Linked DNA regions of Homo sapiens. The protein of the gene in region 1 purifies or fractionates together with the protein of each later gene. This does not show direct contact. Each region holds a gene or a part of one and is shown on either strand. Other genes may lie near its edges. The genes, in order: ARHGAP15, BCAP29, HACD3 and CYB5A.

The links.
Region 2: the proteins of ARHGAP15 (region 1) and BCAP29 purify together in Homo sapiens (affinity purification with mass spectrometry; one large-scale study listed by BioGRID and IntAct). This does not show direct contact.
Region 3: the proteins of ARHGAP15 (region 1) and HACD3 purify together in Homo sapiens (affinity purification with mass spectrometry; one large-scale study listed by BioGRID and IntAct). This does not show direct contact.
Region 4: the proteins of ARHGAP15 (region 1) and CYB5A purify together in Homo sapiens (affinity purification with mass spectrometry; one large-scale study listed by BioGRID and IntAct). This does not show direct contact.

What each region holds. Positions count from the first base shown.
Region 1 is NC_000002.12:143,127,220-143,133,814, forward strand, and holds the start of ARHGAP15 (rho GTPase-activating protein 15), read left to right. Parts: upstream 1-2,199; 5' UTR 2,200-2,211; coding exon of another isoform or gene 2,212-2,247; intron 2,248-6,595. UniProt on the Homo sapiens protein: GTPase activator for the Rho-type GTPases by converting them to an inactive GDP-bound state. Has activity toward RAC1. Overexpression results in an increase in actin stress fibers and cell contraction.
Region 2 is NC_000007.14:107,585,596-107,591,604, reverse strand, and holds part of BCAP29 (B-cell receptor-associated protein 29), read right to left. Parts: intron 1-6,009. UniProt on the Homo sapiens protein: May play a role in anterograde transport of membrane proteins from the endoplasmic reticulum to the Golgi. May be involved in CASP8-mediated apoptosis.
Region 3 is NC_000015.10:65,535,535-65,541,543, forward strand, and holds part of HACD3 (very-long-chain (3R)-3-hydroxyacyl-CoA dehydratase 3), read left to right. Parts: intron 1-6,009. UniProt on the Homo sapiens protein: Catalyzes the third of the four reactions of the long-chain fatty acids elongation cycle. This endoplasmic reticulum-bound enzymatic process, allows the addition of two carbons to the chain of long- and very long-chain fatty acids/VLCFAs per cycle.
Region 4 is NC_000018.10:74,252,286-74,258,294, forward strand, and holds part of CYB5A (cytochrome b5), read right to left. Parts: intron 4,569-6,009; coding exon of another isoform or gene 4,560-4,568; exon of another isoform or gene 3,654-4,559; intron 3,491-3,653; coding exon 3,456-3,490; intron 1,381-3,455; coding exon 1,299-1,380; 3' UTR 1-1,298.

The DNA.
Region 1 (6,595 bases):
CCTTCCACCTTATACAAAGAAAAGGGGCACTTGTCTCCATTAACTAATTGTTGATGCCAACAAATATTGTGTCACCCTTAAGCAGGTATTTACATTTATTTATTACCATAAGGGTATATTGTTATTTTATATTTTTCCTAGTCAGATGCCTGATGTTAGTATCTATTTAAAAGGAAAGGCATGGCCGGGAGTGGTGGCTCACGCCTGTAATCCCAGCACTTTGGGAGGCCGAGGCGGGCGGCTCATGAGGTCAAGAGATAGAGACCATCCTGGCCAACATGGTGAAACCTCGTCTCTACTAAAAATACATAAATTAGCTGGGCATGGTGGTGCATGCCTGTAATCTCAGCAATTCGGGAAGCTGAGGCAGGAGAATCCCTTGAACCCGGGAGGCAGAGTTTGCAGTGAGCTGAGATCGCGCCACTGCACTCCAGTCTGGCAACAGAGCGAGACTCCGTAAAAACAAGCAAACAAAAACAAGGAAAGGCCTAATTTATTTTCCTTGTCCTAGACTTCTGAGTCTAACTCAGATTTACAAAGGCTTAAATCAAGCAGAATGTACTGAAGTTCTCTGATGCTTCTTAGGAGTTATCAACATTTCCCAGCTCATGCTAATTTATATATCTACAATTCCTTATGATATACAAAATATATACATCTATTTACTTATCGTGTTCCCCAAGATGGATTTTTTTATGCGGATGTTTCATTACATGGATAAATGAACTAAATTTCAGAGAACTTAAGTAACTTGGCCAAGGTTAAGTGAATAGCAGTGTCAGAATTAAGCCCGGAATTCTGCTTTCCTCACTTTTAATATTATGAACTTTCCATTTTCTCTTCGGTGTTAAGGAGAAGCATTCAGTACAAATCTTCAGGACTCTAAACACTTAAAAAGGTCCTTCCTGAAATGAGAACTGACAGTGAATTCTAGGGTCAATCTGAAATGTGATTTTTAGAAAAAGATCCCAGAGAAATTCAGTTAACTGATAGGGACATGCCATCCCTAACTTGGGCCATATCCACCAAATCTATTTTTAAAGATTGACTTTTAGTATGCCAAACATTCTATACCACTGAGCTCTATTACACAGATTTCTAGTCTAATTGGTTTGTATGACAAGAGATTGTGATTTAACTCTCTCATATATTTGGAAGGAAAGCTTTTCCTCTCTTCCTTTTATGATTAAGCTGCAAATCTCACAAAACCAGCCAAGCCTGAAAATCCAGGAGCTTATTCTTGAACTCCATGGCTCAATAAAGATGCACATCCTAGAGTTATTTCTGAGACCCCTTACAAATATGTCTTGGGTTTGTTGAAGTTTGACACAAGAGGGCATTCAGCAGCATGCCAAAATGATATTGTTTGGATCCTTTATTATAATATATATTTTTTTTCTTTTTAAGTCAGACCACACAAAGAATCACTCAGCTAGAGCAAAAGCTCTTCAGCAGGTTTCAGAACTGCTTAGGAAATTGCCAGAGTGGACACATCCGTATGAGAGCCACAGTCACAGCAAATGCCACAGGGTGTGTTCGACGAGCATGATGAACACCTGCCTTTTCCCCAGATGCTCAGATGGCGGCGTGGCTCTGGGCTGTGTTTTCTGAAGTTCTAATGCAACCCTCCCAAGGCCTGATGAACCTGTTAACTGGATCAGGTTTTGGTGGGTCCTTTCATGAATGAGGCAGAGGCACCAGCTCTGTGAATTGGAGGTGGCTTCCTTGCTTCCAAAGTCAATATGCAGAGTGTCCTGATAGCATGGGAGCATCTCAAGCGTAGCCAGCAGAGTAGACGCTTCATTTTTCAGCCCTTGCTAGAAGGCAGAGAAAGAGGAAGTTTCTTCAGTGCTTAGCAGTCTGCTCCTCCCACTGATGAATTTTTAATCACACATTTTCCTCCCTTAAGTTAAAATTGATAAAATCTCTATACATGTGTCTTGTTTGACAATTGATAATAACATTGAAAAATAACAATATTGTTGACTATACAAGGCAATTTCTTCAAATTGAGTAATGATGTGATGTGTGTGGTTAACTGTCTCTACCCAGGAAGTGGTTTTATTTAAAAGTTTTGTGCTCACCCCACCCCCCGCCTTTTTCTTCCCCCAGTACTGAAATTAAGCAGCATCCAACACAGGCCTACTCTTACGACATGTGACTTTACTGTTTTCCGTTTTTGTTGAAAGAGTCATTAACAGTTAGGAGTTGATGGCAGTTTCAATAACAGGTCATTGCCGAGAAAAGGTAAGTTTTAACTTTATATTGTACATGAAATTTAAACTTGAACATGTTCGGCAGAGTTTCCTACATTTTGGTGTGAACATATAAACATTTCTACAAAATATGACGCTTTTACCTGTGATTAAAACATTGGCTGGTTTCCTTTGATGTAGAAAAGAATGTTCTTTTCATATTTGCAGCTGTCAAATTCCAATGTCTTTTACTAAAATGTTATAATAATAAGATGATTTGCTAAGATTTTGTACTAAAATGTTAAAGACAGAATAAGTTATAAAGTTTTAGTTTGAAGTGCATTTAAAAATAACTACTAGAAATAATGTGAGACTTTGCACCTTTAACCAACTGTTTTATAAAAATATGTATTGTTCAACATCCAGATAAGGAAAGAGAAAAGGGTATAACAATGAGAAATAGCTTGAATTTCAGTGTGAAAGATACTCACTTTAAAGCATTGTATTAATGTTAGCACTAAAAACCCTTAAAAAGGTTACTATGTAGCTAATTAAAAAGCAAGGAGCTTTTAAAATGTAAAGGAATACTGTCTATCATGACACTTGAAATTTTTTTTCTAAATTTCATTTAAGATATAGGGTGAAATGAGTGTAAGTTTCTAATTCATAAGCAAACTTTTATATTTAAAAAAGAAGTCACAGCTGATTTCATTGAAGGTTACTCTGAGAGGAGAGGCAAATTAGAGGTATACTTTTGTTATTTATGTAATTATATAATTTTCCTTCTTTGAAATATTCCAAAATAATAAACCTTAGAAATGAAAAGGATTTGTTAGTCCTAAACTGACATGTAATTTTCTTTTATATTGACTTCTTGCTTTTACAGAATGTCTTTGTGTGCTGTAACATATGTGCAGAAAACATCAAAATATTGCTAATCTCAGAGACAAATACCTAAAATAAATCTGACTGTAGATTTTTGAAAGAATTTTAATAACAGCCCAAGATATGATCCATTCTTCCCTAATATTATTTTTATTGTGCTGCTGGATGGGAGAAGTGATGGCCCCCACAACACCTATTTTTTGTGTTATTAAAAAATGGTTACAGGGTTGATAAGTGGCAACAATTTTCTTTTCTTTTATTGTCTTCTATTGAAAGACACACATAAATGTTTTTTGACATGGTCAATTTAGTAGGAAATTATTAGGCATAGTAGTACACTCCATTTTAAGACCTCTTCAATTGTCAATACTGAAGCTAGCTACTTGTTGACTATTAAAATGATCACAGAAAAATAGAGATTAGGACTTGGTGTTCAATACATTTTTTATTGTTAGCATGTAAGAAGACCCTGGTAATATATATTTGCTTTGATATTGTGATTAGATTTTCAATTTGTTGCATTTCCTCACAATGGAAAGCATTATTTAAATCTGTCTTCAATATCGTGGTTCTGAACCTCTGCATCTATAGAAGCTGTATAATTCTGATAATTTTGGTTGATATGTTATTACTTTCTTTCATTTTATTATAAAAGAATATCAAATGAATAAACACATGCAATACTTACACCTTAGCAAGAATGAATATGCAGATAAACATCTGGCATTGAGGAAAAGTCCATGAAAATTTTTTAAATTGTTTAATGCTTTTAAAAAAGAAATTCACTGTAAAAATGAGTGTTTCTTGCAGAAACTGTTAAATTAAAATACACATATTTTATGGAATATGTGTAAAATTAAGAATGAATTGAAGAGAGCTTGATATGAATTTAGAAAGATCAATGAGTAAAGATGATAGGTAAATTAAAATACCTTCAGAATTGTTTGTAAAGAGCAGTAAGGTACAAACCAAATTTTAAGACAGTTAATTGCAAATAAGTTACTATAGAATTCTATTACTTTATATGTTTTAAGTGGATGAGTCAGAAACAAGTTTTGATGAAATGAAAATAATACGGAAGATTTTATTTGGAAAGTCATATTAAAGCTAATTTGCTCAAAGAATGTCGTGCTTTTCCACTTAGGGCCAGCATTCAGTAAGATTCAGAAAGGAGAAACTCTTTCCTTGATATTCCTCCTGTTGCTCCTTTTTATTATTCTCTTCTGGAGCGGCCTGCTCTGCTCCTAATTTAGAGTCCCATAGACTTGGTACCTAGAAAGATAGACCCTTCCATTCACTGGCTCCTTCCATTCAACTGAACTTTTAAAATGTACTCATCCCATTTTCCAGCACTTAGGGAATCTAATAAAAATAATCCACGCTTATAGGAGAAGGCTACAGAGCTTTGACTTCCTAGCCAGGCCTCCCTTTCTCCCCCCAGTGGAATTTTAATATGTTTCCTCAGCAGACAGGGCCCAAAGGATTAGCTAAATGTTGGATCTCAAGTGAGGAGACTGATGCCATGGTAAATGGTTGGGGGAAGACTTTAGAGGGAGAGTGTTTTGTTAACCATTGGTCCTGCCTGTGGCATTTAAACACAGAATTTCTGGAAGTGTCTCATATGAAGGATCCATCCCAGTGATGTATCCATTTCTTTAAGATAGTCCTGAAGAAATAAACACCTTTCTTGCAGCAGGTAAAAAAAAAAAAATATTGCACTACATTTTCAGGCAATTTTGATATTCCCATACACTTAGAAATTATTTAACATAATTAGTTTTTAATAGATGTATTTTAAAAGTCATTGAACACTCTGAATTTAATTCTTTGGATACTAAAAGCATATTTTTTACACTGTACAATAAATGCTACATAATTAGACTTTAAAATGCCCTTGTAAGTATTCTAAATTTGAGCTTAGAGTGTGCAAAACTTCTTTGTTGGCAAACGATAGAAAATGAGTTCAAACTAGCCTAGGCAAAAGAGATATTCTTTTATGTGTGAAAAGTCTAAGGATAGCAAAGTCAGGAATGGCTGGATCCAGGAGCTCACACAGGATTATCAGGAGTAGGTCTCATTTTTTTCATTCCTCAGCTCTTCTTTTCACTATGCTGTAAGCAGTCTCTAGTGGAAGCTCTCACGAAATTGTCAAGCTCCTACTGAGTTGATCCTTTCAGCAAACTGTGGGGAAAGAATGCTTTTCCCCAGTCACCACAGCAAAGTGTCAGATTTAGATCTGATGGGACTGAATTGGATCACATGACCATAGCTGAACAATTACTGAACTTGGGTGCAGACAGCATGCGTGACCATGCCTAGCTCACAGGCCCACTCCTGCACTGGGGGCAGCTACAGCTGCAGCACTTGGGCTCTCTGCTAAAAAGAGGGGTCTCCTGATGTAGAAATTAAAATGCTTTCCCCAGAAGAAAGGACAAAAGCCTCAAAATTCTACTACGGAGTCACGTATGGTCACATTTTAAACAGTCATTATTTCCCAACTTCTTCAAATTCCATAATTGTACAAAAATACAGTTTTAATTGAAAGGCGGATCTGATTGAAACATGAGTTTGAATTAAACTAAATTTTAAAATATTTTTCAACAGCTACTGTATGTTTGACAACTCCTCACAACATTTGCCTTCTAAAAGCTTATAATCCAGAGTGACTATTATTTTAATAATTATGATGCAAATACAATTTGTCAAGTACCATAAGAAGATACAGAGAATGCTCTATTAGAGTTCAGAAATTCATCCAGCATTTTTGCATTCCTGTTATTTGCCGAGCCATAAACTAGAGAATTTTGTAAGTGTTGTATCATCTGATCACATACTTTCAGGGAGTTCTGGACAGTTTTGGAGGAAAGTTTTGTGGTAGTTTTCAGGGAAATCTAGCACTGGGAAGATGAGAAACATTGCAAGGGACAGGAAGGAAATATGTCAAGGCACAAAAACACGGCGTGTCAGAGAATTCCAAAGTAGTGTGAATTCTCCAGTTTTGTTAGACAGAAGTATAGTAATAAGAGGTAGGCCAGAAAGATAGTGTGAGATCATAAATAGAGTAGACCTGGATATAAGTAACAGCAGGGTTTTTGAGCAGGGGAGATACGTAATTGGATGTCCACACTTTTACATCTTGATGGGTTGTCTGTCTAGGGTCAGGATGTATTTGTTTCTTCCATTTATCTCACTGTGAAGTGACATTTTCTTTGCAGAAGAGTTTGAAGTCAGTGGAGATATTTCTGTAAGGACAGGCACTGACTTACCTGTTCAGGTGCCTGAGGTTCTTATTCAAGTTATGGTTATAACAATCTTTTTTTTCATTTGATGAAGGCCTTTTGTTTGTTTTGTTTGCTTTTAATTTAAGAATAGATGATATAGTGAGATGGTTCAAAATCAATATAAAACCAAAACACAATGTTTTTAGATAAGCTATTTCTTATATTTTTATTTCTATCTATCCCATTTATCCCCATCTTAATCCAACGTAACCACTTTTCATGTTTAATATATAT
Region 2 (6,009 bases), on another chromosome or scaffold:
GAGAGAGAAAGAGAGAGAGAGAGCTCGAGATTTATTTTAAGGAACTGGCTCATATGCTCGTAGAGGCTTGTTAAGTTTAAAATCTGGAGGGTAGACTGGCAGTCTGGAGATCCAGGGAAGAAATACATCTTGAGTCCAAAGGCAACCTGCGGTCAAAATTCCTTTTTGCTCAGAGGAGGTCAATCTTTGTTCTATTAAGGCTTTCAGCTGATTAGATAAAGCCCACTAACCTGTTTTTATTTTCCCCTTTACTGTTGAAATCTGGTAGTGTGAGTCTCCCAATTTTGTTATTTGTAAAGATTTTTTGACTGTTTTATGAGTTCTTTGCATGTCTGCATAAATTTTAGAAGCAACTGATCAACTGCTACAAAAATGCCTGTTGGGTTTCTGACAGGGACTGTGTTATGTCCGTAGAATTTTGGAAGAACAAACATTTTAATAATATTGAGTATTCCAACTGATGAAAAATCCCCATTTATTTTGATTTTCTTTCAGCAATGTTTTTGTAGTTTTCTGTATAGAGCTGTTGTGCCTCTTTTATAAAGTTTATTTCTAAGGTTTTTAGGCTTCTTGGTGTACTTAGAAAAGGAATTTTTAAAAATGTCATTTGCCTATTGTTTACTGCTTATAGTATAGAAATACAATTACTGATACACTGAATTTTTGTATACTGACCCACCTGTATTTTGTGACCCCACTATATTAATTTCTTTGACATAATAACTTTCTTGTAGATACTTTAGGATTATTTCTTTCTTTCTTTCTTTCTTTTTTTTTTTTTTTTCTGAGACAGGGTCTCGCTTTGTCACCCAGGCTGGAGTGCAGTGATGTGATCACGTCTCACTGCAGCCTTGACCTCTTGGGCTCAAGCAACTCTCCCACCTCAGCCTTTTGAGTAGCTGGGACTACAAGCATGAGCCACCATGCCTGGCTAATTTTTGTACTTTCTGGTAGAGACGGGGTTTAGCCATGTTGCCCAGGATGGTCTGCAACTCCTGAGCTTGAGCAATCTGCCCAACTCAGCCTCCTAAAGTGGTGGGATTACAGGAGTGAGCCACTGTGCCAGGCCAGGATTTTCTATATAAATAATCGTGTCATCTGCAAATAAGGATATTTTACTTCTTTCTTTGCAATCTTTAAGCCTTTCATTTCTTTCATGACTTATTATTACCCTGGCTAGGACATCTATTACTCAAATGAATAAACAGAGTGTAAATATCCTTGCCTTGTTTCCAATCTTATGGGGGAAGACTTTGATATTTAAGTATGATGCTAGCTTGAGGTTTTTTGTAGCTCTTCATCAGAATGAGAAATCTTCCTTCTAAATCTTTAAAAAACAACTGAGTGAATATTATTTTTTTCACTGTCAATATTCAATATAATGGGTAGATATTATTAAGGTGGAAACTAAAATCACCGATTTTAAATCTTTTTTAAAAATAAATATTCAAATCTATAATTTTTCCTTTAAGCAGTGCTTTAATGGCATCTTAAAATTTTAATATATTGTATTTTCATTATTGTTCAGTTAAAATATTTTCTAATTTCCTTTGTGAGTTCTTTGACCCAAGGATTACTAACAAGTCTTGTTTAATTTTCAAACATGTATAGGTTTTCCAGATTTCTGTTACTGATTTCTATTTTCATACTCTGTAGGGGCTGGGCACAGTAGCTCTCATCTGTAATCCCAGCATTTTGGGAACAGGAAGGATCACTTGAGGCCAGGAGTTTGAGACCAGCCTGGGCAACAAAGCGAAAGTCTGTCTCTATAAAACAACAAAAACAAAACCCCCATACTCTATATGATTCCAATCCTTGGTAGGACTTCAATCCTTTGTATTTATTGAGACTTGTTTTATGGCCCAGAATATAGTGTATCTTGGTGAAGAGAGTTTAGTATATTCATGTGCCCTTGCAAAGATTATGTACAGCAGGGGTCCCCAACACCTGGAGCCATGCACCTGTACTGCTCCACGGCCTGTCAGGAATTGGGCTGCACAGCAGGAGGTGATTGGCAGGCCAGTGAGCAAAGCTTCATCTGTATTTACAGCCACTCCTTATCGCTCACATTACTGCCCAAGCTATCAGATCAGTGGTGGCATTAGATTCTCATAGGAGTGGAAGCCCTTTTGTGAACTGCGCGTGCAAGGGATCTAGGTTGCATGCTTCTTATGAGAATCTAATGCCTGATGATCTGCCACCATCTCCCATCATCCCCAGATGAGAATGTCCAGTTGTAGGAAACAAGCTCAGGGCTCCCAGTGATTCTACATTACGGTGAGTTGCATAATTATTTCATTATATATTACAATGTAATAATAATAGAAATGAAGTGCATATAAATTTAATGTGCTTGAATCATCCCGAAACCATCCCCTGCTCCTGCATATGGAAAAACTGTCTTCCATGAAGCTGGTCCCTGGTGCCAAAAAGGGTGGGGACTGCTGATGTACAGTTTACAGCTGTTTAGAGAGGCTTGATTTTTATACTTTTTTAGGGTAAGTCTATTTTGCTTTAGGCCTTAGTTATAGTAAATTTCTAATTCCTGGGATATAGTCTCTATTCCTAAGGAGTAGCCCTTCTGTGATTTTAGTGGAAAGGTTCAAGGTCTTTACCAAGCCCCTCTAACGTGATGAGGCTCATACTCCAAACTCTGTCTCTCCTTGGTGGCCAGCAGCCAAAATTTCTTCTCAGCCTTGCTGCTTTTTGCTGGCTGTTCCTTTTCATTGATTTCCTTGGAATCTTTCCTACACATCCATGGTTGAAGAGTCAACCAAGAATTTAAGGGGAGTTTACATGTGGATTTTGGGGTTCCCTTTTTGGGTTCTCTCCTTTCTTAGACATCCTTCTTATTTTTGAATCTATCTGACCTCTGACCCCTTAAGTCAGTTAAGACTGTCTTTTTGCTTTGAGTTCTATATCGTTGTCTATGCCACATGACTGGAAAGCGGTTGGAAGAAAGGCTATATAAATGTGATCACACCCAGTATGATTCCCTTCTTTTAAGGGTTGACGTCCCTCTAGTTTCTGCCTGCTTTTGGTTGCTCTACAAGGCCTTCAAATACCTTTTTTCGTATTTTATCGAGGGTTCATAATTTTTAACACAGGAGAAATAGTCTAATACAACCCGTTTTGCTATGAACAAAGCCAGACTCCTATGTCTTTAACAAAATTGTTTTAATTTATTGAGGCAAAATTCATATAACATAAAAGTAAACACTTTAAAGTGAACAATTCAGTCATGCTTAGTATATTCACAATGCTGTGCAACTACCACCTCTATCTAGTTCCACATTTCCATACTCCAAAATAAAACCCAAATAAATCACTCTAAAACTTAAAAAATCCTTAATTTTTGACTTTATATTTGTATGCCATATCTATTCCTGAAAGTCTTAGTTTCTAATACCATGAACATACTAATTTGCTTGATGCTGCACTATACATAAAACAGCTTTTAAATTACCAACAATAAAACTATTATAAAGTTTCAGATTTCATTGTAATCCTCTTGGTTCTTAAAATGTACCCTACCAGCGAGGTAAAAAGTTAAGAGTACTATGTTCAAGAGTAATTATTTTTCTCTGTGTTATATATTGCAATCTGATGTACTATTCAGTTCATTTGTTCTGACTTATTTTCAATTCTACAGCTTGCTTTTTTCTAGCTCTGTACAATTTGAAGTTTAAATTCTAGAACAGTTTAAGAAGCAGTAGTAATATCTGTTTTCTGAAAGCAGTAGGGTTTCTTATAAAACTATCTGGTTTTTTGCTTTTTTTTTCAAATAGGGGTCCTTTTTGATAACTTTCTATAATTTTTCTATATAAATTAGTCTGCTTAAATTTTCTATATCTACTGGTGTTCATTTGGTAAATCATATTTTTCTACAAAATTATACATTTTATCTAGGTTTTCCAATTTATTTGCATAGTTATATAAAGTAGTCTCTTAAATGATCTTTAGAAAATTTCCTGTATCTTAATGGCTATTTCCCCTTTGTCATTTCTCAGATTGCCTCAATAATATAGTAAGAGCATGCCAACCACTACCAAAAAACCAACAAAGATAATATATATTTACGACTTATTTTAAATAGGCAAATAGTGAGTACTATGAAGGATCATTATGCTTCGTGATTCATCTTCCTTGGTAATTAAATGGGAATAATACTCCTGAATCCATTATGCAGAAAAGCTGAAGATTAACCAATAATATTAAAAAGGTTTATTAATGTCAATGGTCATGTAAACATACCTGTAGAATACATCACCTGTATACTAAAAAGGTAACTATGTCTGAAAAATGGAATGGAGTCAACAATAAGGGAAGGATGTGACATATAGTCAATTTTCTATAAACCACCTGAAGATGATCCAATTTTAGATCAGTTATGGAAACTTTCAAATTCCTGGGATGCATTTCTGCTAACACTAAACACACTCTTGAAATTCCCACTTCCATTCTGTCTCTTACCAGCACCTAAAATACACACACATGCACACACACTTGTATGCACACACTCAGTTAGTGTTGGCTCTAAGAATACAAACACTTCTTAATAGCTACCTTATTTTGGCTGGGTGCAGTGGCTCATGCCTGTAATCCCAGCACTTTGGGAAGCCGAAGTGGGCGGATCGCTTTGAGCTCAGGAGTTTGGGACCAGCCTGGGAAACATGACAAAACCCTGTCTCTATTAAAAAAAACAAAAATTAGCCAGGGGTTGGTGGCTCTCGCCTGTAGTCCCAGCTACTTGGGAGGCTGCAGCTGGAGAATTACTTGAGCCTGGAAAGTGGAGGTTGCAGTGAGCTGAGATCGCACCACTGCATTTCAGCCTTGGTGACAGAGTGAGACCCCGTCACAAAAAAAAAAAAAAAAAGAATAAATACATATAAAAAGAAAATGTATAAAAAAGTTACCTTATTTAGAGAGATAACCAAGAAAAAGGAAATAAATTTCCAAGTAAAATATAAATTAAGCATGAGTAATCCACTGGTTTTGCATTATTTACATCGTTGTGGACTCGAACATCAGACTCTGCACTTTACATATGTTACTGCGTTTAAATCTTAAAACACGAAAGTAGGTGTCATTACTCCATTTTGGATGGAGACCTAGAGGATAAGCACCTATCTGGTTGCCTTAACTATCCATGATGTCCTTGTTCTCTGGGAATTAATTGCCCTGTTTACCCAAAGATGCAGGCTTCAGCCAGCAGTCATGATTCTCCCTTGTGACCTTCCTGGTTATAGGAGATGAGGAGTAGATAACTGGTACTAGCTGGTCCAATTTTTTTTCCTTTGATGTGGAATTGGGATTCAGAGATGATGAATTAACCCTTGCATACGTCTGGAATGGGTACCACACCTGGCAGCTGTGTGGTACCCATTTACTGCCTTGGAGATAGACAGAATATCAGAGTCCATAATAAAAAAGAATGAAGTATATATAGGAAAAATGTATATGGCCAAGAAAAGGACATTTCAGTTCCAAGTACTAATCCCTCCCTGGAATTTGGCTTCCTTCCTTTCTTGGGCTACTCTGCAACAGCCCCGTATTTTATTACAAATTTTTCCTTTTTTAGTCAAGCGAGTTCAAGTTGGTTTCTTTTTTTTTGAGACGGAGTTTCACTCTTGTCACCCAGGCTGCAGTGCAATGGCGCGATCTCGGCTCACTGCAACCTCTGCCTCTCGGGTGCAAACAATTCTCCTGCCTCAGTTTCCTGAGTAGCTGGGATTACAGGCACGCGCCCCCATGCCCGGCTAATTTTTGTATTTTTGGTAGAGACAGGGTTTCACCACGTTGGCCAAGCTGGTCTGGAATTCCTGACCTTAGGTTGATCCACCTGCCTTGGTCTTTCGAAGTGCTGAGATTACAGAGGTGAGCCGCCGCGCCCGGCCAAGTTTGTTTCTAATGTAACCAAAAGAACTTATACTACAACTCCCCTCCCTTACATGATAAGTGACAGTTTTCAATAGAAATTTTTGTGATAATTTTAGAGTTAGAAGATCA
Region 3 (6,009 bases), on another chromosome or scaffold:
ATTGAAGGTTGTGGCAACAAAGTCTGTTGGCGTCATTTTTCCAACAGCATGTGTTCATTTAGTGTCTCTGTGTTGTATTTTGTTAATTCTTGGAATAGTTCAGATTTTTTCATTATTATTATATCTGTTCTGGTGATCTGTGATCAGTGATCTTTGATGTTAACTTTTTTTTTTTTTTTGAGGCAGGGTCTCACTCTGTTGCCCAGGTTGGAGTGCAGCAGTGTGATCATAGCTCACCGTAGCCTTGAACTCCTGGGTTTGAGCAGTCCTCCTGGCTCAGCCTACCAAGTAGGACTACAGGTACCTGCCTAGCTAATTTTCAATTTTTTAATTTTTTTAGAGGTGGGGTCTCATTATGTTGGCCAGGCTGGTCTTGAACTCCTGGACTTAAGCAATCCTCTTGCCTTGGCCTCCCAGATCCCTGAGGTTACAGGCTTGAACCACTGTGCCTAGCCTTGATGTTACTATTGTGATTGTTTATTATTTATTTATTTATTTTTGAGACAGGGTCTCACTCTGTCACCCAGGCTGGAGTGCAGTGGTGTGATCTTGGCCCACCGCAACCTCCGCCTCCCAGCCTCAAGTGATCCTTCCACCTCTGCTTCCCAAGTAGCTGGGACTGCAGGCATGTGCCACTGTGCCCAGCTAGTTTTTGTATTTTTTGTAGAGACGAGGTTGGTCTCGAACTCCTAAGCTCAAGTGGCCTGCCCACCTCGGCCTCCCAAAGTGCTGGGATTACAGGTTTGAGCCACTGTGCCCAGCCACCATTGTGATTGTTTTATGGCAAAATGAAATGCACCTATATAAGATGGTGAACTTAATCGATAAATGTATGTGTTCTGACTGCTCTCACTGGCCATTCCTCCATCTCTCTCCCTCTCCTTGGGCCTCTCCTCTGAGACACAACAATATTGAAATTAAGCCAGTTAATAACCCTACAATGGGGTCGGGTGTGATGGCTCATGCCTGTAATCCCAGCACTTTGGGAGGCTGTGGTGGGTGTGTCACTTGAGGTCAGGAGACCAGCCTGGCCAACATGGTGAAACCCCGTCTCTACTAAAAATATACAAAAATTAGCTAGGTGTGGTGGCGGGTGCCTGTAATCCTAACTACTCAGGAGGCTGAGGCAGGAGAATCACTTCAACCTGGGAGGCTGAAGTTGGGTGAGCTGAGATCACGCCACCGCACTCCAGTGGCAGAGTGAGACTCTGTCTCAAAAACAAAACAAACAAACAAGCCCTACAGTGGCTTCTAAGTGTTAAAGTGAAGAGTTGCACATGTCTCACTTTAAATCAAAAGCTAGAAATCATTAAGCTTAGTGAGGAAGGCATGTCAAAACTGAGACAGGCTGAAAGCTAGGCCTCTTGCACCAAGCAGCCAAGTTGTGAATGCAAAGAAACAATTTTTGAAGGAAATTAAAAGTGCTATTCCAGTGAACACCCAAATGATAAGAAAGCAAAATATCCATATTGCTGATATGAAGAAAGTTTGAGTGGTCTGGATAGAATATAAATCAGCCACGACATTCTCTTAAGCCAAAGCCTAATCCAGAACAAGGCCCCAACTCTTTCAATTCTATGAAGGCTGAGAGGTGAGGAAGCTGCAGAAGAGAAATTTGAAGCTAGCAGAAGTTGATTCATGAGGCTTAAGGAAAGGCTCCATAACATAAAAGTGCAAGGTGAAGCTACAAGTGCTGATTGTAGAAGCTGCAGCAAGTTATCCAGAAGATCTAACTAAGATCCTTGATGAAGGTGGCTGCACTGAACAACAGATTTTCAATGTAACAGCCTTCTACTGGAAGAAGATGCCGTGGAGGACTTTTATAGTTAGAGAGAAGTCAATGCCTGGCCTCAAAGCTTCAAAGGACAGTCTGACTCTTTTGTTAGGGGCTAATGCAGCTGGTGGCTTGAAGTTGAAGCCAGTGCCCCTTTACCATTCTGAAAATCCTAGGGCCCTTAAGAATTATGTTAAATCGGCCGGGCATGGTGGCTCATGTCTGTAATCCCGGCACTTTGGGAGGCCGAGGCAGGTGGATCACCTGAGGTCAGGAGTTCAAGATCAGGCTGACCAACATGGCGAAACCCCGTCTCTACTAAAAAATAAAAAAAATTAGCTGGGCATGGTGGCGGGCGCCTTTAATCCCAGCTACTTGGGAGGCTGAGGCAGGAGAATCGCTTGGATCTGGGAGGCAGAGGTTGCAGTGAGCTGAGATCGCACCACTGCACTCCAGCCTGGGCAATAGAGAGAGACTCTGTCTCAAAAAAAAAAAAAAAAAGAATTATGCTAAATCTACTCTGCCTATGCTCTGTAAGTGGAACAACGACTCCTGGATGATAGCACATTTGTTTACAGAATGGTTTACTGAATATTTTAAGCCCACTGTTGAGGCCAACTTCTCAGAAAAAAAAAAAAAAAAAAAAAAAAATATATATATATATATATATATATATATATATATATATATATGTATATTCCTTTCAAAATATTACTGCTCATTGACAGTGCACCTAGTCCCACCCAAGAGTGCTGATGGAAATGTCAAGGAGATTAATGTTGTTTTCATGCCCGCTAACATAACATTCCTTTTGCAGCCCATGGATCAAGGAATAATTTTGACTTTCAGGTCTTATTTAGAAAATACTTTCCGTAAGGTTAAAACTGTCGTAGGTAGTGATTCTGTGATGGATCTGGGCAAAGTCAATTGAAAACTTTCTGGAAAGGATTCACCATTCTAGATACCATTAAGATCATTTGTGATTCATAGGAAGAGGTCAAAATATAAAAATGAACAGGAGTTTCGAAGAAGTGGAATTCAACCCTCATGGATGATTTTGAGGGGTTCAAGACTTCAGTGGAGGTAGTAACTGCAGGTGTGGTAGAAATAGCAAGAGAACTAGACTTAGAAGTGGAGCCTGAAGGTGTGACTGAATGCAGCAATCTCATGATAAAACTTGAAGGGATGAGGAGTTGCTTCTTATGGATGAGCAAAGAAAGTGATTTATTGAGATGGAATCTATTTCTGATGAAGATGCTCTGAACATTGTTGAAATGACAATGAAGGGTTTATACTGTTTCATAAACTTAGTTAATAAAGCAGTGGCAGGGGTTGAGAGTATACTCTGATTTTAAAAGAAATTATTCTCTGGGTAAAACAGTATCAAACAGCATTGCATGCTGCAAAGAAATCTTTAGTGAAGGAAAGACTCAATCAATGAGACAAACTTCATTGTTGTCCTCCTTTAAGAAATTGCCACAGCCACTCCAGCCTTCAGCAGTCACCACCTGGATCAGTCCACAGCCATCAACATTGAGGCAGGACCCGCCACCAGCAAAAAGATTACAACTCCCTGAAAGCTCACATGATCATTAGCATTTTTTAGCAATGAAATATTTTAAAGTTAAGGTATGTACACTGTTTTTTAGAATAATACTGCATACTTAATAGACTATAGTATAATATAAACATAACATTTATATATACTGGGAAACCAGAAACTTTGTGTGACTCACTTTATTGTGATATTAGCTTTATTGTGGTGGTCTGGAACAGAACCTACAATAGCTCCAAGGTATGCCTGTAAATTAAAATGATAGGATACTGTTTCTCACATTAGAGTAGGAAAATTGAAAAAGCCTGACATGACCAAGTGTTTCTGAGAATGTTCAGTGACAGGACTTTTTTTTTTTTTTTTTTTTTTTTTTTGAGATGGAGTCTCACCGTGTCACCCCAGGCTGGATTGCAATGGCTCAATCTTGGCTCACTGCAATCTCCGCCTCCTGGGCTCAAGTGATTCTCCCGCCTCAGCCTCCCGAGTAGCTGGGACTACGGGCGCCCGCCATCATGCCCTGCTAATTTATGTATTTTTAGTAGAGATGGGGTTTCACCATGTTGGCCATGCTGGTCTCGAACTCCTGACCTCAAGTAATCTGCCTGCCTTGGCCTCCCAAAGCGCTAGGATTACAGACGTGAGCCACCGTGCCCAGCCGGACTTTTTTTATACAGTTGGTGGAAGTACTAATTGGTACAATTGATTTGGAGAACAGTTTTACACTATCTTGTCAAGCTGAAGTTGTATGTCTTTATGAGTTGGAAGTTTTGCTTTTTAGAGAAGCTCTTACACATGCAGGTGGAGGTAGAATGTTCATTGCAGCAAAAAATTGAAAACAGCCTCAATTTTTGTCAGCTGGAAGAATGGATAAATTGTGGTATATTTATACAATGGCACACTGTACAACAGCTACAATGAATGAAACAGAACCATCTTTATAGAATTAAAGCTTAGAAATATAATATCAAATAAAAAGCAAGTTGAAGAATGATATAGGCAGTATGAAATTATTTTTGTGACATGTCAAATCATACTGTATATTGTGAATGCCCAACGTGTTTTAATGAATAAATAAATACAGTGGAAACGACCAACTCCAATCCTGGAGTAGTGGTTACCTGCGAAGTTGGGGCATGTTTGAGGGAGAGGGCATTGGGATTGAGAAATTGTATAATGTATCTGTTTCTGTTTTATTTCTTTTTTTAAAAATTGAGGCAAATAAAGCAAAATGCTAATGGATGTTAGATATAGTGGTGTTTGCTATATTTTTCTGTTTGATTTTGCTTGAAATATTTAATAATAGAAATCAATAAGTCTAAGCTGTTTATTACCACAGTACAAAAACTACTTATAAAGCAGTAAGTTAAATAATCTGGTAACTGTTGACCACTCACAATGGTCCAGGCACAGTGCTAAGTACTAGATATTCAGTAATGAGCAACACATATAAAGGCACTACCTTCAGATTGAGGGAGACAGACAATAGATATGTTAATAAATAATTACCTAGATAAAGTGCTATGAGGGAAATAAAGAGGGTGATGAAATAGAGAATAATTGGTAGAGGCTATTTTAAATAGAGTGGTCAGGGAAGGCTTCCTTGAAGAGGTGATATTCTAGCCGGGTGAAACTTGAAAGTTAAAACAAATGGTGCAGAAAGCTGGGGCAAGAACATTCCAACAAGTCCACAGACTTAGAGGCAGGCAAAGGCTTAGTGGGGTTCCAGGAGCAGAAAGGATATTAGTATGTTTGGAGTGTAGTGAGGAATAAGTTAGAGGGAGATGAGGATAGAAGGGTTTGCAAGATGTAGGTCATGTAGAGCCTTGTTGCCATGGTAAGGAGCTTGGGTTTTATTGTAAGAGCAATGGGAAACTATTAAAGAGTTTTAAGCAGAGAAGTGACTTTGTAGGATTTGTGTTTCAAAAAAGATTATTCTGGCTGCTATGTGGATTATAAAGGGGCAAAAGTGAACTCTAGAAAACCATTTAGGGAGGCTGTTATAGTAGTATGGGTAAGAGATGAGGTGGCTCAGTTTAGGGTTGTGGAGGTGGAAAGCCATGGACACATTTGAGATATATCTGAAGAGAACCTTGAGGCCTTGATGGACTCGTTGGAGAGGAAGGGAAAAGAATTAATGACTAGTCTTAAGATTTTGACTTAAGCACAGAGTAGATGACAACTGAAATGATTAAGACTGGAGAAGAGATTTAGGGGCCAAAATCAAGAGTCCCCTTTTGGACATACTAGTTTGAGAGTCTTGTTATAAACAATTTCCATGTGAAAATGTGAACTAGTGATATAACTATACAAATACAGAGTTCAGGGCAGTAGTCTGGGTGAAAATAGAATTTTATAGTATCTTAGACTTAATTGATTGTAAAATGCACCACTATTTTATTTTTTTCCCTCATGATGAGGGGAAAAATGCTGCTGATTATACTGTGATACAAGCTTTCTTATTACTTTGAGTATTTTTAATTTATTGAAAGAGCTCTCTGAGAGTTTATTTAAACTGTTAATGCTGTTCAGCCAAAGATCACCAAAACACACCTTGTAGTTAAATAAGTTGGGTTTATTGCTTGTTCCAGTGAGGGAAAACACACATCGTAGGGAAACATGTGGTATCTCAGTAAGATGGTGTTAAAAAAGACCTTGTTATATAGGATTTGGGCTTTGATTA
Region 4 (6,009 bases), on another chromosome or scaffold:
TCAGCTTTCAAGTTTCCACATTTAAAAGAATAACACATAAGGCAGAGAATAATAAATGGGAAGTAAGATGACTGAATCAGCCCCTTAGAGCCCCCAGGAGGAGACAGAGCCACACCAGAACTCTTCAGAGCTTGACACTAGCCGCTAAATTTCTTCAAAGATCAGATTCCAATGTCCCACAATCTCCTTACAAATTAGAAAACCAGCCTTTCCTTAGAAGAGTTTACAAACAATTCTACTCTCTGAATGAGGAATTCTTAAAACTTTAGAACCTATGAAGCTGTGAGTGCCTTTGCAATGATACGTGTAAGCTGAGAGAATGGACAGTTGCGATGCCCTCTCATGGTTCATGTGTTTTTAAGTTGCTGATGTTTTTCAATCAGTGAAGATAAGAAGTCTCTCTTATAGGCCCTGTAGGCTACTTTCTTTTTTTTTTGAGACAGAGTTTCACTCTTGTTGCCCAGCTGGAGTTCAACGGCGCGATCTCAGCTCACTACAACCTCTGCCTCCTGGGTTCAAGCAATTCTCCTGCCTCAGCCTCCCAAGTAGCCGGGATTACAGGCATGCGCCACTACGCCCTGCTAATTTTGTATTTTTAGTAGAGACAGGGTTTCACCATGTTGGTCAGGCTGGTCTTGAACTCCTGACCTCAAGTGATCCACCCACCTCAGCCTCCCAAAGTGCTGGGCTTACAGGTGTGAGCCACGATGCCCAGCCGCTACTTTCTTTTTAAGATCTATTTCAAGTAGGACAATTATTAGAAATCCTTAAACTATAATTTCTGGCCTTTCTTAATTTCCTTGAAAAAAAGAAACTATATCGGAAGCATACAATACATGGTTACTCAATGAGATGTGACGATGTGAAAGGAGACACTCAAACCTATTTCCCGCACCTCCAGTCATATGGCCTCTGTGGGTCTGGATGAGTAACACATTGAAGGAATCCTCTAAATAACCAGATTCTAAACATTAAAGACAATTATACACCAAACAGGCAAACACGGTGCATACTTTAAAAGCCAAATATATTTTTAAAAGATCATGCTTATAATAAGTAAATTACACATTAAGGAAACATCAAAATAAAGTAGATGAATAAAAAGGCACACTCGAAAAATTTGAGCGCAGAAAGGACAGTTCTTTTTGTTTTGTTTCTAATGTCGGAAGAAAAAGAAAGAGATATATTAAAATCATTGTTTTCAAGTGAAGGTTTCTGTCAGTTGAAGTAGTTAGCAATGGCTTCTTTTCTCCCGTGTCCAAAGCAGGCTCTTCCTGCGCTGACTTCTGAGGAGGTGTTCAGTCCTCTGCCATGTATAGGCGATACATCAAGGCGACGGCCACTGCAGAGATGGCAGGGATCACCCAGTTGGTCCACCAACTAGAAAGACACAAAAAGCAATGATGCTGACATGATGTGCACTGTGGTGGACTCAAAATCTTTGCTCCTTCTAACAGAAAATTACCAGGGCATGTTTTTCTTAACTCTGTAATGAATTTTGCTGAAAAGGCAACGTGGATTTGCTAAAAGTGACATGAGTGTAACACATGCCCTGCTATACTAGGAATCACTCTGCCCTGCTGGCTTTATGAGAAAACTCATGCCCCACTTGGCTGGGCTCAGTGGCTCACGCCTGTAATCCCAGCACTTTGGGAGGCCAAGGCAGACGGATCACTTGAGGTCAGAAGTTTGAGACCAGCCTGGCCAACATAGTAAAAACCTTCTACCAAAAAATACAAAAAGTAGCTGGGCGTGGTGGCAGTAGCTAATTGTAATCCCAGCTACTTGGGAGGCTGGGGCAGGAGAATCGCTTGAACCTGGGAGGCAGAGGTTGCAGTGAGCCGAGATCACGCCACTGCACTCCAGCCTGTGTGATAGAGCGAGACTGTCTCAAAAACAAACTAACAAAAATAAACAAACCAAAAAATGAATGCCCCACCAGCTGTAAAGTTGAAGAGTATGGGCCCTGTGATGATTAACACTGCCATTAACACCACAGCTTTAAGCTTAGGTTTGGAAAATCTAATCTTTACTACCTGTGCTGAAGTGGATTTAAAGGGTTAAGAAACAGAATGGCCAGACTACTTGGTGTGTGGTCCACAGGTCTAAATTCACCAAAAAAAAAAAAAAAAAAGCCTAAATTTACAGTCCTGATGCATAGAATTTCGATCTATAAATTACAGATTACAAATCAAATCAGGGACAAAGGAGGGATGAGCTATAATTTCTATTTGAATCTTTTTTTTTTTTTTGATACAGAGTCTTGCTCTGTTGCTCAGGCTGGAGTGCAGTGGCACGATCTTGGCTCACTGCAAGCTCCGCCTCCTGGGTTCACACCATTCTCCTGCCTCAGCCTCCCGAGTAGCTGGAACTACAGGCGCCCGCCACCATGCCCGGCTAATTTTTTTGTATTTTTAGTAGAGACAGGGTTTCACTGTGTTAGCCAGGATGGTCTCGATCTCCTGACCTCGTGATCCACCTGCCTCGGCCTCCCAAAGTGCTGGGATTACAGGCGTGAGCCACCGCGCCTGGCCTCTATTTGAATCTTTAAATTAGATTTGAATCTTTAGATTTTGATCTTTGACTTAATTTCTTAGAAAAATGGAAATTAATGTGTAGGCTTTAGAAATAGACTTGGTATACATATGTGTTTCATAGGGACTACAAGTATAATCCTTTCATAAGGATTACAAGTGAAACTTTCATAAGAATTACAAGTGTAACTTTTGTCTTAGTGGGGTTTGGTGGGGTTTTTCAATTTCACTTTAGAAAGAAACTGGCTTGTTAATGAAGAGTAAGGTGAAATACTGCCTGCAGGCAGGGAATATTCCAGAACACCAACGGACTGAGGCAGTTAAATTTGACAGGATGAAATACAAATGTGTGGTTTTGAGCTTGGGTCCAAAAAAGTGGCTACTACTGAAGTCAATATGGTAGAGCTGCCAAAGATGTTAATGTGCACTTGGACTATCATAAACAAATCTGGTGCCTAGAACAATTGAGTCGTGCTACACATAGATTACCAGCTTCAACTTTAAAGCTAATAAAAATGACAAAGGAAAACTGACCCATGTTTAGGGAAATGTAATCACTAGAGTTTAAGAAACAGACATGGATTGAAAGGAAGGAAATGTCTGCTTGGATGAGCCAGGGAGGTGCTGTGGGACTGGCCGCCTAAGATGCTGCCCTGGGGGAAAAGGAAATGCAATTGTTCTGTTTGTTCCTTGGGGTGGATGCAGCCAGCCAGCTAGATCACGTGGCTGTGGACAGTGTTCACAGTCGGCTACCTGAAAGTTTGAGGCTGAGTGCTCTGAACAGTCTGGCCTTCAGCAGAAGGTTGCTGAGACAGCACAGTGTCAGGCCCAGGAACCCAGAAGGTGGGGGACGCACCTTGTCCAACCTGGACCCATGAGCCCTCCCACCCACTACTGCTTTAAAAGAAAGCTACCACATACCTGGAACTAGAATCAATAGTAGTGATAAGAGTTTCCTGAAACACGAGAGGAAAAAGTAAAGTAAGTTCAAGGGAATGCTGAACTTATTTCATTGACTAAAATCCTGTTTGAAAATAAGAACACAATATTTTATGCAATGCATTCTTCAGAAGATGTCGAAAGGGAAAATTATAAACTTCTTTTCACTAAAATGCCTAACTTTGTTTTCTTCCAGAGTAAAACATTTTAATCATTATATTTACTTAAGGACATAACCTCAATAATTTAAAAACATTCAAAATTAATATGCTACATAAAATATCTTGCACACGCTAGGCATCTAAATAATGCAGAAACTGAAAACAGACATTCATGTTCACATACACACAATCCCACGTCACCTTTAGAAAAAGCAGTTTAATTCTTCAAAAGCATGAACACAATGTTCAATAAAAACATCAGTTATTTCATTCAAATCTGACAGATGTAAAAAAGTGTACCTAAATTACATTAAATATATGTGAACCAAAAAGAAAAAAGAGGACTGCCATTTTAAGTTCTACATTCTAGGCCAACTTTCCCGGGGGGCTGCTTTAATTCTGACCAGACGGAACCAGCAAGACACCAGACCAGCCTCACAGGACTGCTGTGCCCGGCGTCACACTTGTCACCAGCTGGTCACTGTCAGCCTAACAGCAAATCCCCAGATAAGGAAGCCCTGTTTTTATCCTCCAGAGCTTTCTGGGAGCAGCTCTTTTGAGTAGCACTAAAGTGAATGGACAATGGTTCTGGAAAAACGCATACTTCTCCAACAGCTGAAAAGCTAAGGTCTAGTGAAATATCAACTTTTTGGGGCTTGAAAATGGGTTAAGAAGCATTCTTTTGATGTTCCACACCAACATAAGCATTAGGGCCTCAAACAGAAGTTGCCATAAATAAGACAGCTTCAGATCTGCAGTTTCCCAAAGCAAAGATAAAAAGCATTAGCAAAACAATCAGCGGCCTGCAGTAAGGCAAGCATCACTCTGCAAAGCACGTTAGAGAAACTCCCGTGAAAAGACAGACCCCTTTCAGGGAAAAGCAAGCAAAGCAGTTATGAGACCCACCAACCTTGAAACACCGCCTTTAAGGTTCCTGACACAGTAGGGGAAAAAAGGTAAGTCATTTAAAAATAAAATTGCAAATTTATTATCTATTCCAGCAATTTTAAAATCTTAGCATCTATAAAAAGTATTCATAACTACAGCAAGAGGATTTTCCAAATTGTGTATATATGAATAAAATTAACAAAAATTACTAGAAATAATCAAAATATACAAAAATATTAGTTAGCTATTAGAGGACACAATCAGTTCTGAAACAAAAGAATCACTGAAGGTAAAATATGATTGTCAAACTAGAAAGTTAAGTTTGAAACAGCCAACGGAAGGCAAACACAAACATCCACGGCGTCGTTAAAATGAGGGCAGGCATTTCACCAACGTGCTGACAACTCTGGAACCTCCCACCTGCCCTCCTGCTGCCTTTGTGGTTACCATGGGAGAGCGCTAAGGTTAAAACACTACTCTGGCACCAGCATCATCAGCAACAGCCATGAACTCTAAAGAGGGGAACTTGAAATAATCGTATCACCTTTTGATTGTTGATTATCTTCTTGGCTCTGTAGCCCAGGATGCTTGACAGTTAAAGGAAGTTTGAATTACCACTTTGCACTTTGATGGAAAAGTAATTGGTCTTTAGTGGTCAGTGCTCTGAGGGCCTCACTTGGGTTTAGGGACGTGACTATCAAAGAATGTCAGCAATGAACAAGGAGAAAGAATATGGTTTTTATGATTGGCTCTGCCACCTGTTCACTCCATGACTTCGAGGTTCAACTTCAGTAAAAAGAGGTTAACAATTAAATCAGTGTGTCAAAGTCTGGGCATGGTGGCTCAGGCCTGTAATCCCAGCACTTTGGGAGGCCGAGATTGGCGGGTTGCTTGAGTCCAGCAGTTCGAGACCAGTCTGGGCAACATGGTGAAACCCTGTCTCTACAGAAAAATACAAAAATTAGCTGGGCACAGTGCTGTGTGCCTATGGTCCAGCTACTCGGGAGGCTGAGGTGGGAGGATTGCTTGACCCCGGGAGGTGGATGGTGCAGTGAGTCCAGATCCATGCCGCTGCATTGCAGCCTGGGCAACAGAGTGAGACCCCGTCTCAAAAAAGTAAAATAAGTATGTCATGCATAATGACTTATAAAAGTCATGTGAATCAGTGTAAATTACAGTAAGCTCCATAAATTATGAAAAGCATGCAAAGCCCAACAAGCTTTTGTGAATCAGAGTCATCTCATTTATAAGTTCATCTAACGTAAACTTTAGTGGGAAGCCTATCTCCCTTAAAATACTGACAGAGTGATGTCTAACACGGCAAGCCCAGAACCTAGAGGAGAAGCTTAAGGGACTGCAACTGACCAGCCTGAGATGGGTGCTAGATGGTTCTGGAGCACGTCTGTGAGCCGGGTGCTTAACACTTCCCAGCTGCAATGTACCTACCTCCCTTGGCAGGTCTAACATGGAGACACTGTGAGGACCAA